4 linked regions of the Homo sapiens genome follow. The protein of the gene in region 1 purifies or fractionates together with the protein of each later gene. This does not show direct contact. Each region holds a gene or a part of one and is shown on either strand. Other genes may lie near its edges.

Region 1 (3,500 bases):
TGTACCAGCATAGTGGTTATGAGTGCAGACCAAGGAGTGGGAAGGCTTGGGTTCAATTCCCTTTTCACCACTTATGAGGCATGTGCATGTGGGCAGTTCATTAACTCTCCAAGTTTCACTTTCCTCATCTGCAAAGTGGGGATAATATTATAGTAATTTCGACTTCATAACATTGTTATGGAGATTAAATGAGATGATACACGCAAAGAATTACTACTGAGCCCAGAGGATAGTAAGTAGTTAACACATGTTATTTTATAATTATTATCCTACCTTAATTGGTGAATTTGTATCACTTCAAAACAGGTTGTTATATAAGCCAAAATTAGAGATCTTGTAGTTTTCTAAAAAGTCAGTTTTACAGTCAAATATTTTTATTTCAAGATAGTTTCCAACTCACTCTAAAATTCGCTTTTTCTTTGTTTTGTTTTTCGTTCAAGGACAGCTTCACTTTAGAGACTTCCCAAATGAATGCTTTCCTAATTACTCATTTCTATGAATATCCATGGCTCTGTAATATATTTTTCTCATTGCTATTAAACTTAAGTGTGATTAAACACTATGCAGCCACAAAACACTTAAATTGCATTTTCTGTGTCTTATTTATAGCCTGGATCTACACTGGGAATTTTGGAACTGCATCAGACCCTCAGCCTAAAAAGAAACAGAGTCTATGTCAACATAATTACTCTAAGGGAGTGATCTACAATGAAAAAAAAACAACTTTTTGAGTGAGTCTATCTAGAGTATATAGAATCCTATGATGAAATGACATTATACCTTAAGGCTCAGTTTCTCTTTTGTGTTTTGTTTTTTACCCTAGAAGTTTATAGTCTAGCTTAGATAGAGCAGACAAACTAATGAAAGATTAGATGGCTGCCCACTATATTAATATTTCAAATCAATTATTTTTCCTGTCTATGAGAAAGCAAAGATGCTGACTTACCATTGAAGGACCTGCATTGAATTGCTTTCCCTCACTAGGTGACAGATTCACAATTACTTATGCCTTTCTTTTCACCTGGTTCCTTGTAATGTCTAGTGAGGTACTTGTCCATATTTATGTACATAGCATGTTGCCATGGGACACAACTTTGCATTGATCCATCAAACAGTTCCTGGGAGGCTGCTGTGGGTCAGGAATTACTCAGTCATATCAATGACCCCATAGGGCCAACACCACCCTCTACTTTAGTGTGTATGTTAGTACACACCAATGATTGCATGACCACCTTTTAAAACTTGGCTGTCCTCTATTTAGCCATCTGCAATCCCAACCACCTGTGCTTCCTAACACCACTGGCTCTGTTTACATGCATACCTAAATGTGAAGACATGCCCTCATTTCCTCCTCTACTTTCATCCTCCACCTACTCAGGATTGACACACAACAGGGAGACACTGGGGCCTGGCCAGATGATTCTGAATAACTGCAGAGAGAAATGGCTTAGGCAAAAGGCCACAGCAGGAGAGGGGGAGAATTACAAGTGACATAAACAGGAATAAAGCAAGCACTAAAGAAAGCGGTGATGTTTTGGATGACAATTGTAAAAACTTTCATAGTCAGTTTTATTTGGGGGAACAGATGCTGAGGAGAGGGGGTATCTTATGAAAACTAATTCCTGATCCACTGAGGCGCTCCCTGACAGCAGCACTACATGGAGGTAACATTTAATTTAGAGAGTGTATGAGAAAATAACAGTGTCTGTAACGTAATAAAAAAGGGGAGTAAGAACTAGGGTGTTTCAATGATTATGGGGGCAGTGGGCTTTGAAGCCAAATCAACCTTAAGTACACTTGCCACTTGTTACACTGTGATCTTGTGAAGGTTACCTAATCTCTCTAGACATTATTTCCCACATTTATTAGATAGAGATAATATTTGAGAATATTTTTGTGAGAAACTAATATGATAAGCACAATGCCCAGAGCACAGTAAGCACTCCACAAAGATTAAAGCCAATGTTTTTCATATCAAACAGGGGGAGCCAACACTCAGGTAGATATTTACAAGGTATTTCATACATCTCTAACTGCCTCATTGTGGTATGCCAAATATCCTCATCCCCAGGACCTGTGAATATTTCCCACACACAAGAAAAGAGACTTTACAAATACGATTACATTAAGGATTTTAAGGTGAAGTGGTTATTCTGGGTTATCCAGGTGGGTCCAATGCAATCATAGGGGCTCATATAAGAAGGAGGCAGACGGGTTAAGAGTGGGAAGAGCTGATAGATGTAAGCGGAGGCCAGAGCAATGCAGGATCATGAGCTGAGGAATATGAGTGGCCTCTAGATGCTGAAAAAGGTAAGGAAAATTATTTCCTAGAACTTCCAGAAGGAGGAACATAAATGAAAATGTGTTGTTTTAAGAAAAATATGAAGAAATATAATTTAAAACTAAAAACAGAAGATCACAATACAACTTCAGATTTCTTTTTTTTTTTTTTTTTTTTGAGACGCAGTCTCTCTCAGTCGCCCAGGCTAGAGTGCAATGGCGTGATCTCGGCTCACTGCAAGCTCCGCCTCCCAGGTTCACGCCATTCTTCAGCCTCAGCCTCCCCAGTAGCTGGGACTACAGGCGCCCGCCACCATGCCCGGCTAATTTTTTTTGTATTTTTAGTAGAGATGGGGTGTCACCGTGTTGGCCAGGATGGTCTCGATCTCCTGACCTCGTGATCCGCCCATCTCGGCCTCCCAAAGTGCTGGGATTACAGGCGTGAGCCACCGTGCCCAGCCAAAACTTTAGATTTCTGATCTCCAGATGCATAAGATAATAAATTTGTGTTGTTTTAAACCACTGAGTTTTCGGTAATTTGTTACAGCAGCAGTAGGAAACTGCTACACTTACAAAGGTGAGAATCGAGTTTTTACAACAGTCTGCCTGACTGTTTAGAAAGAAAGTAGTAGTAGGGAGTGGCGGAGGCTGTGGCTCACACCTGTAATCCCAGCAGTTTGGGAGGCCTAGGTGGGCGGATCACTTGAGGTGAGGAGTTCCAGACCAGCCTGGCCAACGTGGTGAAACCCCGTCTCTGCTAAAAATACAAAAATTAGCCAGGCATGCTGTTGTGTACCTGTAATCCCAGCTACTGGGGAGGCTGAGGCAGGAGAATCCCCTGAACCGGGAGGCAGAGGTTGCAGTGAGGTGAGATCACGCCATTGCACTCCAGCCTGGGCAACAGAGCGAGACTCCGTCAAAAAAAAGAAAAGAGAAGTAGTAGTAGTAGGGAGTGATTAAAAAGTAGAAAAGGGCCGGGCGCGGTGCCTCACACCTGTAATCCTAGCACTTTGGGAGGCTGGGATGGGAGGATCACTTGAGTCCAGGAGTTTGAGAGTAGCCTGGGCAACATAGGGAGACCCTGTCTCTACAAGTGTGGTGGCGCATGCCTGTGGTCCCAGCTACTCTGGGCTGAGTTGGGAGGATCACCTAAGCTGGGAGGTGGACGCTGCAGTGAGCTGTGATTGTGTCACTACACTCCAGCCTGGACAACTAGAATG
Region 2 (3,500 bases), on another chromosome or scaffold:
TACTAAATAATATTCTACCTTTATGGACAGAAAAAATTTAAATTCCTCTTTTTAAACTGGAAGTTTCACCTCCCAATTCTTAATCTCAAATTAGGTTATTTCATTTTTCTTAATTCCACTGGAAAGATGCAATATAGAAAAGATATGATAGGCTGGGTGTGGTGGCTCACACCTGTAATCCCAGCACTTTGGGATGCTGAGGCAGGCATGTCTCTTGAGCCCAGGAGTTCAAGACCAGCTTGGGCAACATACTGACCCCCATCTCCAAAAAGAAGAGATACAACAGAAAAAGGTCACAAGGGAAGCCACAAGATTGACTAATTACTCTTTTTTTTTTTCCTGAGACAGAGTCTCACTCTATCGCCCAGGCTGGAGTGCAGTGGCGCCATCTCGGCTCACTGCAACCTCCGCCTCCTGGGTTCAAGCAATTCTCCTTTCTCAGCCTCCCAAGTAGCTGGGATTACAGGTGCCCACCACCACGTCTGGCTAATTTTTTGTGTGTTTTTAGTAGAGATGGGGTTTCACCATGTTGGCCAGATTGGTCTTGAACTCCTGACCTCAAGTGATCTGCCCACCTCGGCCTCCCAAAGTGCCAGGATTACAGGCGTGAGCCACTGCGCCCAGCCAACTAATTACATTATTAAATGCCTAGGATTCTTTGAGTATTCTTTACCATTGATAATCAAAATACAACACCTATTATTATCTGGTGTTGTATAATAATAAACCTATTATATTATTTTTAACATTTAAATTAAAATACACTAAGCTGCTATACACTGAACGGTGAAGCATAAGAGAGCAGAAATAGGGGGGAAGATCAGCATTTATTTCTATGTAAGTCTGAGCCAATGAATCAGCAATTTGTCTTACCTTTAAAAGTTCTAGATTTCCCTCCTTTGCCATGGGCACGCCCTTTTTTACTGGATAACCCATTCGAACAGGAAGAGGTACTGCAGAGGGTTTAAATGGTGCTGCAACTGGGTAAACACTAGGCCAGTCCTGGTCAACAGCCATTTTCTCTGTCCTAGGAGGTAGTGCCTAAGAAATATAAAATCGTTTAGTATTTTAAATATAAACACATTCTTTAATTCTTAAAGAATTTTAATTTTAAAGCAAAAAGCTACAATTACAAGAAATAGAAGCAAAATTGCAACATATGTAAAATCTGACCTCCCACAATGCTGCTGCTGTCCAAATTTTAAAAACAACACTAAATCTACCTAAATATCTCTGCACTGTTTCTTCAAACCCTCTGGCAAGGATCCCCTTTAATATCACATTTTCTTCACTAAAAATTTCTTTAACTGGACTTTTAGCAAAATTTTTACATTTTGCTTATGAAAGGGTGAATTAACAATACATTTTGAAATAATTTTTCGAACTTCTTTGATGGAAGTCAGTAGTACATGAGGGGGCGTTAAGTACTTGGAAGTAAAAAGAAAAGGAAAAAATAATTAGGGTTAAACTGATTGAATAAATATATAATGAAAAATTATATGTCTCCTAGGCCCAGAGAAAAACTAGTACTTGATAGCTTAGTCAATCACATTAACATTTATTTTTAATGGCATCAAATACGAGGGGATGGCCCACATACAAAAGTAGGGTTTATAGTGGCAAAATTCAGCCATGCCCCGCCTACGCAATATCAAAACCAGTGTAGTCAATATCCTAGAAGCAGGTAATAGTCCTGAGGAAATGACTGCTCTTAATGATTGTAATTTGATACCATTTAACTTCCAACTAATGTGTCTTTGTTCTGACACTATTGCTCACCAACTGACCTTATCGTTTAGATTCCTCCATAGAAGTAAGGAATCCAAATGTCCACAGGGTGAGACTCAACTAGTTAGAATACGGCCAGGTGCCGTGGCTCATGCCTGTAATCCCAGCACTTTGGGAGGCCAGGTGCAGTAGCTCACGCCTGTAATCCCAGCACTGAGGCGGGTGGATCACCTGAGGTCAGGAATTCAAGACCAGCCTGACCAACATGGTGAAAACCTCTCTCTACTAAAAACACAAAAAATTAGCCAGGCATGGAGGTGTGTGCCTGTAGTCCCAGCTACTTGGGAGGCTGAGGCAGGAGAACCACTTGAACCCGGGAGGCAGAGGTACCAGTGAGCCAAGACTGCACCACTGCACTCCAGCTGGGCAACAAGTGGGAAACTCTATCTCAAATAAATAATAATAAATAAATAAACAAACTAGTTATATTAATGCATAAGTCCCAGGCTGCAGGACTTAAGATAGCATTAGAAATTGTTCCATATTCTGGTTTATACACCTGTTTCCTGGGAGTTCCTCAGTAAGTCAACCTCTCAAAGATCATCTATTCTCTGGGTACTGACAAAAAACAAAGACTAACCTCTGCCAGGGCTATGGCAATCACCCAGTAAACATGACCTTGTGAAGTCTTCTCTGGTAACACCCTTCTGCCTTATAATGAATATCTGCCTCATTTTAGAACTCCAGAAACCATTAAGATAGTAGAGTATACGAACTTTTTACCTTTCTTCTTGGTGGCCTTTCATTTCCGGGTGTTCTTTCCGCTGTACGTAAAAGATAACACAGTAGTTAAAGAGAATTTTATCATGTCAAGTTAGTTGTTCAACATCAATCATGATCCCATTATTCTAACACAATTTAAGGTATTTAGTAACATAACAATGAAACAATCTTTTTTTTTTTTTTTTTGGTAAGCTCAGGGACCAAAATCATCTTAATGAAGACTAAAAACTGGAAACAGAGGGAGTCTCGGCGTATCACCCAGATTGGATTGCAGTGGTGTGATCTCGGCTCACTGCAACCTCTACCTCCGGAGTTCAAGTGATTCTCCTGCCTCAGCCTCCCAAGTAGCTGCGACTACCAGTACACCCCACCACACCTGGCTAATTTTTGTATTTTTAGTAGAGATAGAGTTTCACCATGTTGGCCAGGCTGGTCTCAAACTGCTGACCTGAAGTGATCCGCCTGCCTCAGTCTCCCAAAGTGCGGTGGGCAGGTGTGAGCCACTGTGCCTAGCCCCAGTAAGGAAAATTCTACAGTTATTTGAATTGCAGATACAGTGAATTCATTATCTAAAAAATGACTCTTACAGAGTCTGTCAAGTAAGACAACTTTTTAACAAATAATTTCAATAAACAGTGATAAATATTATGAACACATATAGCAGGGAACGAAACCTAGTCAATTAGTTTGTATGACGGTGAATTTTTTCTTTTTTCTCTTTCTTTCTTTTTTTTTTTTTTTTTTTGAGACAAGGTCATCTCACTCTCGCCCAGGCTGGATTGCAGTGGTGCAATCTCGGCTTACTGCAGCCTCGAACTACCAGGTTCAAGCCAATCCTTCTACCTCAGCACCCCAAGTAGCTAGGACTAAAGACATGAGCACACCCGGCTAATTCTTGTAGAGACGGTGTTTCGCCATGTTGCCAGGCTGGTCTCAAGCTCTTGAGCTCCAGCGATCCACCCACCTCAGCCTCCCAAAGTGCTGGGATT
Region 3 (3,500 bases), on another chromosome or scaffold:
AAGTGCTGAGATTACAGGCGTAAACCACCGTGCCTGGCCCAAGAGGATCTTTCTAACACCCAGAGGGACTCTGTCCTCCCTGCTCAAACTCTCTGTCAGAAGGGTCAGCAAAGTCCCAAGCTGCTCAGCCTGGAGTGGTGAATGCCCTGGGCCTGGCCAGCTGCTGTCTCACCCCGTATCTCCACCACCCTCCTCCCGAGCAGGGATGAGCAAGGGGGCACAGGGAGGGCTGACCACAGCTACCTGTTTGCCCAGCAGCACCAGGTCCACCTTCTCCTTCTCTGCCAGCTTGGCCAGGACCCGAGCCACCTGCAGGGGACCCAAGCGTTCTGCTTCTGCTGGGGGCACCTCCACGTGGATACCTCGGTCTGCACCCATGGCCAGGGCGGTACGAATCGTCTCCTGCCAAGGACAGAGGGGCTTGACTTGGCTGCTATCCTCAGGGGGACCTAGGAGTCTGGCTCGCAGCCCCTCCTTCCTCAGACCCAGGAGTCCAGGGCCCCATCCCCTCCTTCCTCAGACCCAGGAGTCCAGGCCCCCATCCCCTCCTTCCTCAGACCCAGGAGTCCGGGCCCCCATCCCCTCCTTCCTCAGACCCAGGAGTCCGGGCCCCCATCCCCTCCTTCCTCAGACCCAGGAGTCCGGGCCCCCATCCCCTCCTTCCTCAGACCCAGGAGTCCGGGCCCCCATCCCCTCCTTCCTCAGACCCAGGAGTCCGGGCCCCCATCCCCTCCTTCCTCAGACCCAGGAGTCCGGGCCCCCATCCCCTCCTTCTTCAGACCCAGGAGTCCAGGCCCCCATCCCCTCCTTCCTCAGACCCAGGAATCCAGGCTATCAGCCCATCCTCCCTCAGACCCAGGGGTCCAGACTTCCAGCCTCCTCCTCCCTCAGACCCAGGAGTCCAGGTCCCAGCCCCTCCTTCCTCAGACCCAGGAGTCCAGGGCCCCATCCCCTCCTTCCTCAGACCCAGGAATCCAGGCCCCCATCCCCTTCTTCCTCAGACCCAGGAGTCCAGGGCCCCATCCCCTCCTTCCTCAGACCCAAGAGTCCAGGCCCCCAGCCCCTCCTTCCTCAGACCCAGGAGTCCAGGCCCCCATCCCCTTCTTCCTCAGACCCAGGAATCCAGGCTATCAGCCCATCCTCCCTCAGACCCAGGGGTCCAGACTTCCAGCCTCCTCCTCCCTCAGACCCAGGAGTCCAGGTCCCAGCCCCTCCTCCGTCAGACCCAGGAGTCCAGCCCCCTCCCCAAGACCTTCATCACCTGGCACTGTGCAGGCCCACAGCTGACGGCGATGACCTCCTTCACCAGCTTCTTCTCCTTGAGCCGCACAGCCTCCTCCACCGCGATCTCACAGAAGGGGTTCATGGAGTGCTTCACACCATCCGTGACCACACCGGTCCTGTCAGGCTTCACTCGGATCTGCCCAGCAGGAGGGGAAGGGGTGGGGTCAGGAGGAAACAGGCAAGAAGGTGGGGGCCTCAGCGCCAACCCTCTCCCAGGCTGGATGAGGACAACGACAGCCTGGAAAGGGGCAGGGCCTTGTCCGGGGTCACACAGCTCCAGGGACAGAACTGGGTTAGAGTTTGTAGGCAGGGGCAGGTCACCCTGTCTCCTTCTCTCATCCAGCCATTCCTGGGTACCAGGGACATCTGACTTGATCATCCCTACTGTTGTCACTGCTCCTCTCAGGCCTGAAAGAGTGTTTCTCAAATTTACAGTATTTATGGTAACCCACAGTGAGAGGTACATTTTACTGTATCTCCAAGTGTATATAAATACATAATACACTGATACATAAATACAAATGAGGAGAAGAAAAGGAAAAACCAGTTAGGTAGACAGTTAAGGGTGGTCCTCAGAGGAGCAGCCTGCCTGAAAAATCACAGCTACAGGCAACAATAGAGCAGCCTGGGGAAAACTCAAGCTGCCCAGCACAGAAGCCTTTTGTTCTTTGCGTGACTGACAGGCTCCCAGGAAAAGTTCCCTCCCCTTTTCAGGCACGTACATGGTGGTCTCTGTGGGAACTTGCACGGGGAGGGGCGGAGCTTACCTAAAACAAACCCACGGTTACAGAAACAAGAGAAGCGGAGCTTTGTGCTTGCCTAAAGACGTACCCACAACTACATAGATAACGGAGAGTTATGCAGATAGCTTTACAGATAAGATACTCAAACAGCTACAGAGATGAAAGGAGTTTCTTATAAAAGCTTTTGGTGTCTTTTGCTGTGCAGAAGCTCTTTAGTTTAACCATCAGAGTGAACAGGCAACCTACAGAATGGGAGAAAATTTTTGCAGCCTACTCATCTGACAAATGGCTAATATCCAGAATCTACAATGAACTCAAACAAATGTACAAGAAAAAAACAAACAACCCCATCAAAAAGTGGGCGAAGGATATGAATAGACACTTCTCAAAAGAAGACATTTATGCAGCCAAAAAACACATGAAAAATGCTCATCATCACTGGCCATCAGAGAAATGCAAATCAAAATCACAATGAGATACCGTCTCACACCAGTTAGAACGGCGATCATTAAAAAGTCAGGAAAGAACAGGTGCTGGAGAGGATGTGGAGAAAAAGGAACACTTTTACACTGTTGGTGGGACTGTAAACTAGTTCAACCATTGTGGAAGTCGGTGTGGTGATTCCTCAGGGATCTAGAACTAGAAATACCATTTGACCCAGCCATCCTATTACTGGGTATATACCCAAAGGATTATAAATCATGCTGCTATAAAGACACATGCACACATATGTTTATTGCGGCACTATTCACAATAGTAAAGACTTGGAACCAACCCAAATGTCCAACAATGATAGACTGGATTAAGAAAATGTGGCACATATACACCATGGAATACTATGCAGCCATAAACAATGATGAGTTCATGTCCTTTGTAGGGACATGGATGAAGCTGGAAACCATCATTCTCAGCAAACTATCGCAAGGACAGAAAACCAAACAACGCATGTTCTCACTCATAGGTGGGAATTGAACAATGAGAACACATGGACACAGGAAGGGGAACATCACACACCGGGGACTGTCGTGGGGTGGGGGGAGGGGGGAGGGATAGCATTAGGAGATATACCTAATGCTAAAGGACGAGTTACTGGGTGCAGCACACCAACATGGCACATATAAACACATGTAACAAACCTGTACGTTGTGCACATGTATCCTAAAACTTAAAGTATAATAATAAAAAATAAATAAATAAATAATTTTTTAAAAAAAAAGCTTTTGGAATCAACTGTAAAAATGGCAACCCGCTTGGGCTTCCCTCTCCTCTGTGGAGAGCTTTCTTCTTTTGCTTATTAAACTTTCGCTCCAACCTCACCTTTTGGGTGGTCTATGCTCTTTAATTCTCTTGGTTGTGAAACGAGCTCGGATAACACCTTAGACAACGTGACCAGTGACCCTGACCTATTTCACAAATGCCACTGCAGTGTAAGGGTCAGTGACCAATACTGACCCTGCCTACACACACACCATA
Region 4 (3,500 bases), on another chromosome or scaffold:
TAAGCAGTGTTAGGCAAGCAGGACTTAGTCAAAGTGGTCTAAGGGGAGCTAAGGAAACAGACAAGCAAAGGTCCAGTGACAAAAGAAAATTTGTGCATTTGAGGAACTGAAAGTTCTATGGCCTGAGGGATAGACTATTTTCATTTTACTATTTGTATGTACAGGTTGTATATTGAATGTGAAAAATAGTCCTTCTTTCCCTCTCCCCTGAAAAAACAGTTTGCATAAAATGGTCTATGTATTGTTTTCCTACATAAAATAGTTACAAAAATCTATCATTCAGCTATCCTCAATAACCTATATCACCTGTTGAGATTTTAAATGGGATTCACAGAATCAGTAAATTTGGAGAAAACCAACAAGCCCTATCTTCCCACCCATGAGCATAGTATATGTCTCCATTTACTGAGGTTTTCTTCGACCTCCTTCAATAGTTTTATTATTTTCTCCATAAAAGCTTTATTTTTTTTCTTAGGTTTATTTATAGGTACTTAGTGGTTTCTCTTGCTACTGTGAATGTTACATTTGCTCCTATCTACTCTTCTGACATTACTGATCTAGGGAATGCTATTGATTTTTATTTATGTTTATTGCCTTTTAATTATACTACCAATTTTGGAGGGAAGAACATAAAGCAAAACTGTCTTGCCATCATGTTCTTTTATTCTTGACGGTTTATTTCCGGGAATTAAAACAAGCATCCATTGCCACACTCCATCACTGCACAAAATGGAGCCATGTGAATGTAGAACTCCATTCTCATCCCTACCGCACCCCCTAGTGGAAAAACAGACTAAGTGCGTTTTACAAAAAGCTGCTATAGAAAATAGAAAATTTTGGTACATTTATTTCAACTATGGTTTGAAACAAAACCTTTCTTAAATAAAGGCTACTTTAAAGACATTAACCAAGTTGCCTGCTAGAAAAAAGATTAATGCACTTAGGGAATAACTGATGAATGAGGATCTTACTATAGGAACTAAGATAAATTATATGAAAGATATTTCTGAGCCACATATCAATATACAAAGTTATTTTGGAACGGCTTATGTATTTCAAAAATCACTGTAAATACCAACAATGATAGTTGAGTGTTTTACATACAGATCTAGAAAACTGGGGTAAATATATGCAAATGCAAGGCAAAGTCAATAAATAGGCTTCTTTTATATTCTAGTTACATAATTTTCTGATGTGTCTACATACCAGCTGTTGCTGAGTGTTAGTTTTACTGAAATTTAAAAATGGGGAAGGAGTTGGTTTTGTCAAACTAGCTATTATACTCACTTGAAAGAATTCTACATTTCGTAGTCACCACTTCCTCACTTTTTGGTTCTTTCTTGAATCTAATGAGATTTTCATCCCCTCTATTCCAAAAAGGAATAATTCTTAAAGTTGTCAATGACCTCTGTTTTTGCAAATCCAATGATTCAATTCCAGGCCCTGTATTACCAACCTCTTCACACTCAGTTGATCATTCCCTTCTTTTTAAAATTTCCCTTCTCTTTCAAATTGCCAGATGCCCCTGGGTTTCTTCTTTACTTACTAATCACTCTTTCCCATTTCTCTTTGCTGCTCCTTCTCTTCCCAATTTCTAAATGTCAACGAGGTGCTCTGCACTCAGCCCCTAGACACTCATCTAGTATACAGATTTAAATACTATATGCTGATGCCTCCAAAGTCTCTATCCTGGCTCTAGACTCTCCCCTGATATGACGTTCACTAAGCACCTCCTCTTGGAGTCTAATGAACGTCTCCAATGCACCATGTTCCAAACAGAGCTCTTTGATAAGGCCTGTGCTTCATTCATCTTACACAGTATGCTTGACTCCTCTTACACCCCTTACCTATCTACCAGTAAATCCTGTTGGCTCTACCATGAACATAACACCAATTTCAACCACTTCTCTCAAACTCCACTGTTACCACCTTGGTCTAGCCACCTTCCATTCCCTCCTAAATTAACACAACAGCCTCCTAAACCCTCTCTCGCTGCTTCTGCTCTTGGCTTCCTAGCAAAAAAAAAAAAAAAAGAACCACCACCCCAGCAGCCACAGTGATAGTTACAAAAGACAACTCAAATTACATCACTCTCACCCTTATTCAAAACTCCATAGGCTTCCCACTGCGTTCCGTAAAATTCAAACTTTGCATGAATTTGACTCCTGCCTCTCTTCAATCTCCATCCTTATCACTCTCTGCCTCATGTGCTGTTCCAGCCTCACCACCCTCCTGTTCCCCAAACACGGCAAGCCTGTAGCTGCCTCAGCACCTTGTACTTACTCTTCCTTCTGAACAGAGCACAAACCCTCTTATCTCCACTTGCCTCGTTCTCCTACCTTATTCAGGTCTCTACCAAGTGTCACCTCCCCAAAGAAGCTCTCCCTGGCCACCAGTCTGGAATATCAGCTGCCTGGCCAGTGATAATTAATTCTCTTTGCTGTTAATCTACTTGATTTGTCTTCACAGTACTTCCACTATAGACATTATGCATTTATTCATTCATTGTCAGTTCCTCCACTAGCAGGAGGACTTGATCTAGATCATTTTACCACAGTGCTTAGACCAGGGTTTGGCAAAGAGTAGGACCTCAATAAATAACACTAATTTAGAAATGAACTCACTTTTTCCTGCTTTAAGTAAAAAAAAAAAGTACTAAGAATTAAGAAATAAATTATCTGTCATATTCCTAGGGAATTCAGACAAAATTAAAAAACTACGAGTTTGAGGCACCTGATTCCAGGCAGAAATGAACCTAAGAAATATTTTAGTCTCATATTTTCACGAGGTGAATTAATTTTTCAACTTCTAGCAAGCTATCAAAGTATTTATCCCAAGTTTTCCGGGAACTTTATGAGATACTACTACAGTTCATTTTAACAATTAGGCTCCTGTCTTTTACTTTGTCAAGAAGCCTTTTAAACTTATTTAGACAGTAAAGGAAAAAGATCAAACATAAAAAACACATTTTTTATCTTAAAATATTTTAATGTAAAATTTATCATATAAAAATGTACAAAATATGCTTATGTAGCATTTTAAAAATATATGCAGTACTTATACATTTTTATAACACCAGCTTAAGAAATAGAACATTAATATTCAGTTTAAATCCCCCTGCATTCCCTCCCTAATTGCACTCATTTTCTGCCTTCCAATCCAGAAGTCTTCTCTTTATTTATTTATGTATGTATGTATGTATTTATTTATTTATTATTATTATACTTTAAGTTTTAGGGTACATGTGCACAATGTGCAGGTTAGTTACATATGTATACATGTGCCATGCTGGTGTGCTGCACCCACTAACTCGTCATCTAGCATTAGGGATATCTCCCAATGCTATCCCTCCCCCCTCCCCCCACCCCACAACAGTCCCCAGAGTGTGATGTTCCCCTTCCTGTGTCCATGTGTTCTCATTGTTCAATTCCCACCTATGAGTGAGAATATGCAGTGTTTGGTTTTTTGTTCTTGCGATAGTTTACTGAGAATGATGATTT

The links. Proteins that work in one complex are often made in the same cells at the same time.
Region 2: the proteins of PRSS35 (region 1) and MRPS35 purify together in Homo sapiens (co-immunoprecipitation; one large-scale study listed by IntAct). This does not show direct contact.
Region 3: the proteins of PRSS35 (region 1) and ETFB purify together in Homo sapiens (co-immunoprecipitation; one large-scale study listed by IntAct). This does not show direct contact.
Region 4: the proteins of PRSS35 (region 1) and OXCT1 purify together in Homo sapiens (affinity purification with mass spectrometry; one large-scale study listed by BioGRID and IntAct). This does not show direct contact.

The regions. Positions count from the first base shown.
Region 1 is NC_000006.12:83,515,534-83,519,033, reverse strand, and holds part of PRSS35 (inactive serine protease 35 precursor), read right to left. Parts: intron 1-3,500.
Region 2 is NC_000012.12:27,713,832-27,717,331, reverse strand, and holds part of MRPS35 (small ribosomal subunit protein mS35 isoform 1 precursor), read right to left. Parts: intron 2,553-3,500; coding exon 2,512-2,552; intron 1,042-2,511; coding exon 874-1,041; intron 1-873.
Region 3 is NC_000019.10:51,352,889-51,356,388, forward strand, and holds part of ETFB (electron transfer flavoprotein subunit beta), read right to left. Parts: intron 1,955-3,500; exon of another isoform or gene 1,751-1,954; coding exon of another isoform or gene 1,421-1,750; coding exon 1,262-1,420; intron 403-1,261; coding exon 244-402; intron 1-243. UniProt on the Homo sapiens protein: Heterodimeric electron transfer flavoprotein that accepts electrons from several mitochondrial dehydrogenases, including acyl-CoA dehydrogenases, glutaryl-CoA and sarcosine dehydrogenase.
Region 4 is NC_000005.10:41,842,926-41,846,425, forward strand, and holds part of OXCT1 (succinyl-CoA:3-ketoacid coenzyme A transferase 1, mitochondrial isoform 3 precursor), read right to left. Parts: intron 733-3,500; exon of another isoform or gene 656-732; coding exon of another isoform or gene 650-655; intron 1-649. UniProt on the Homo sapiens protein: Key enzyme for ketone body catabolism.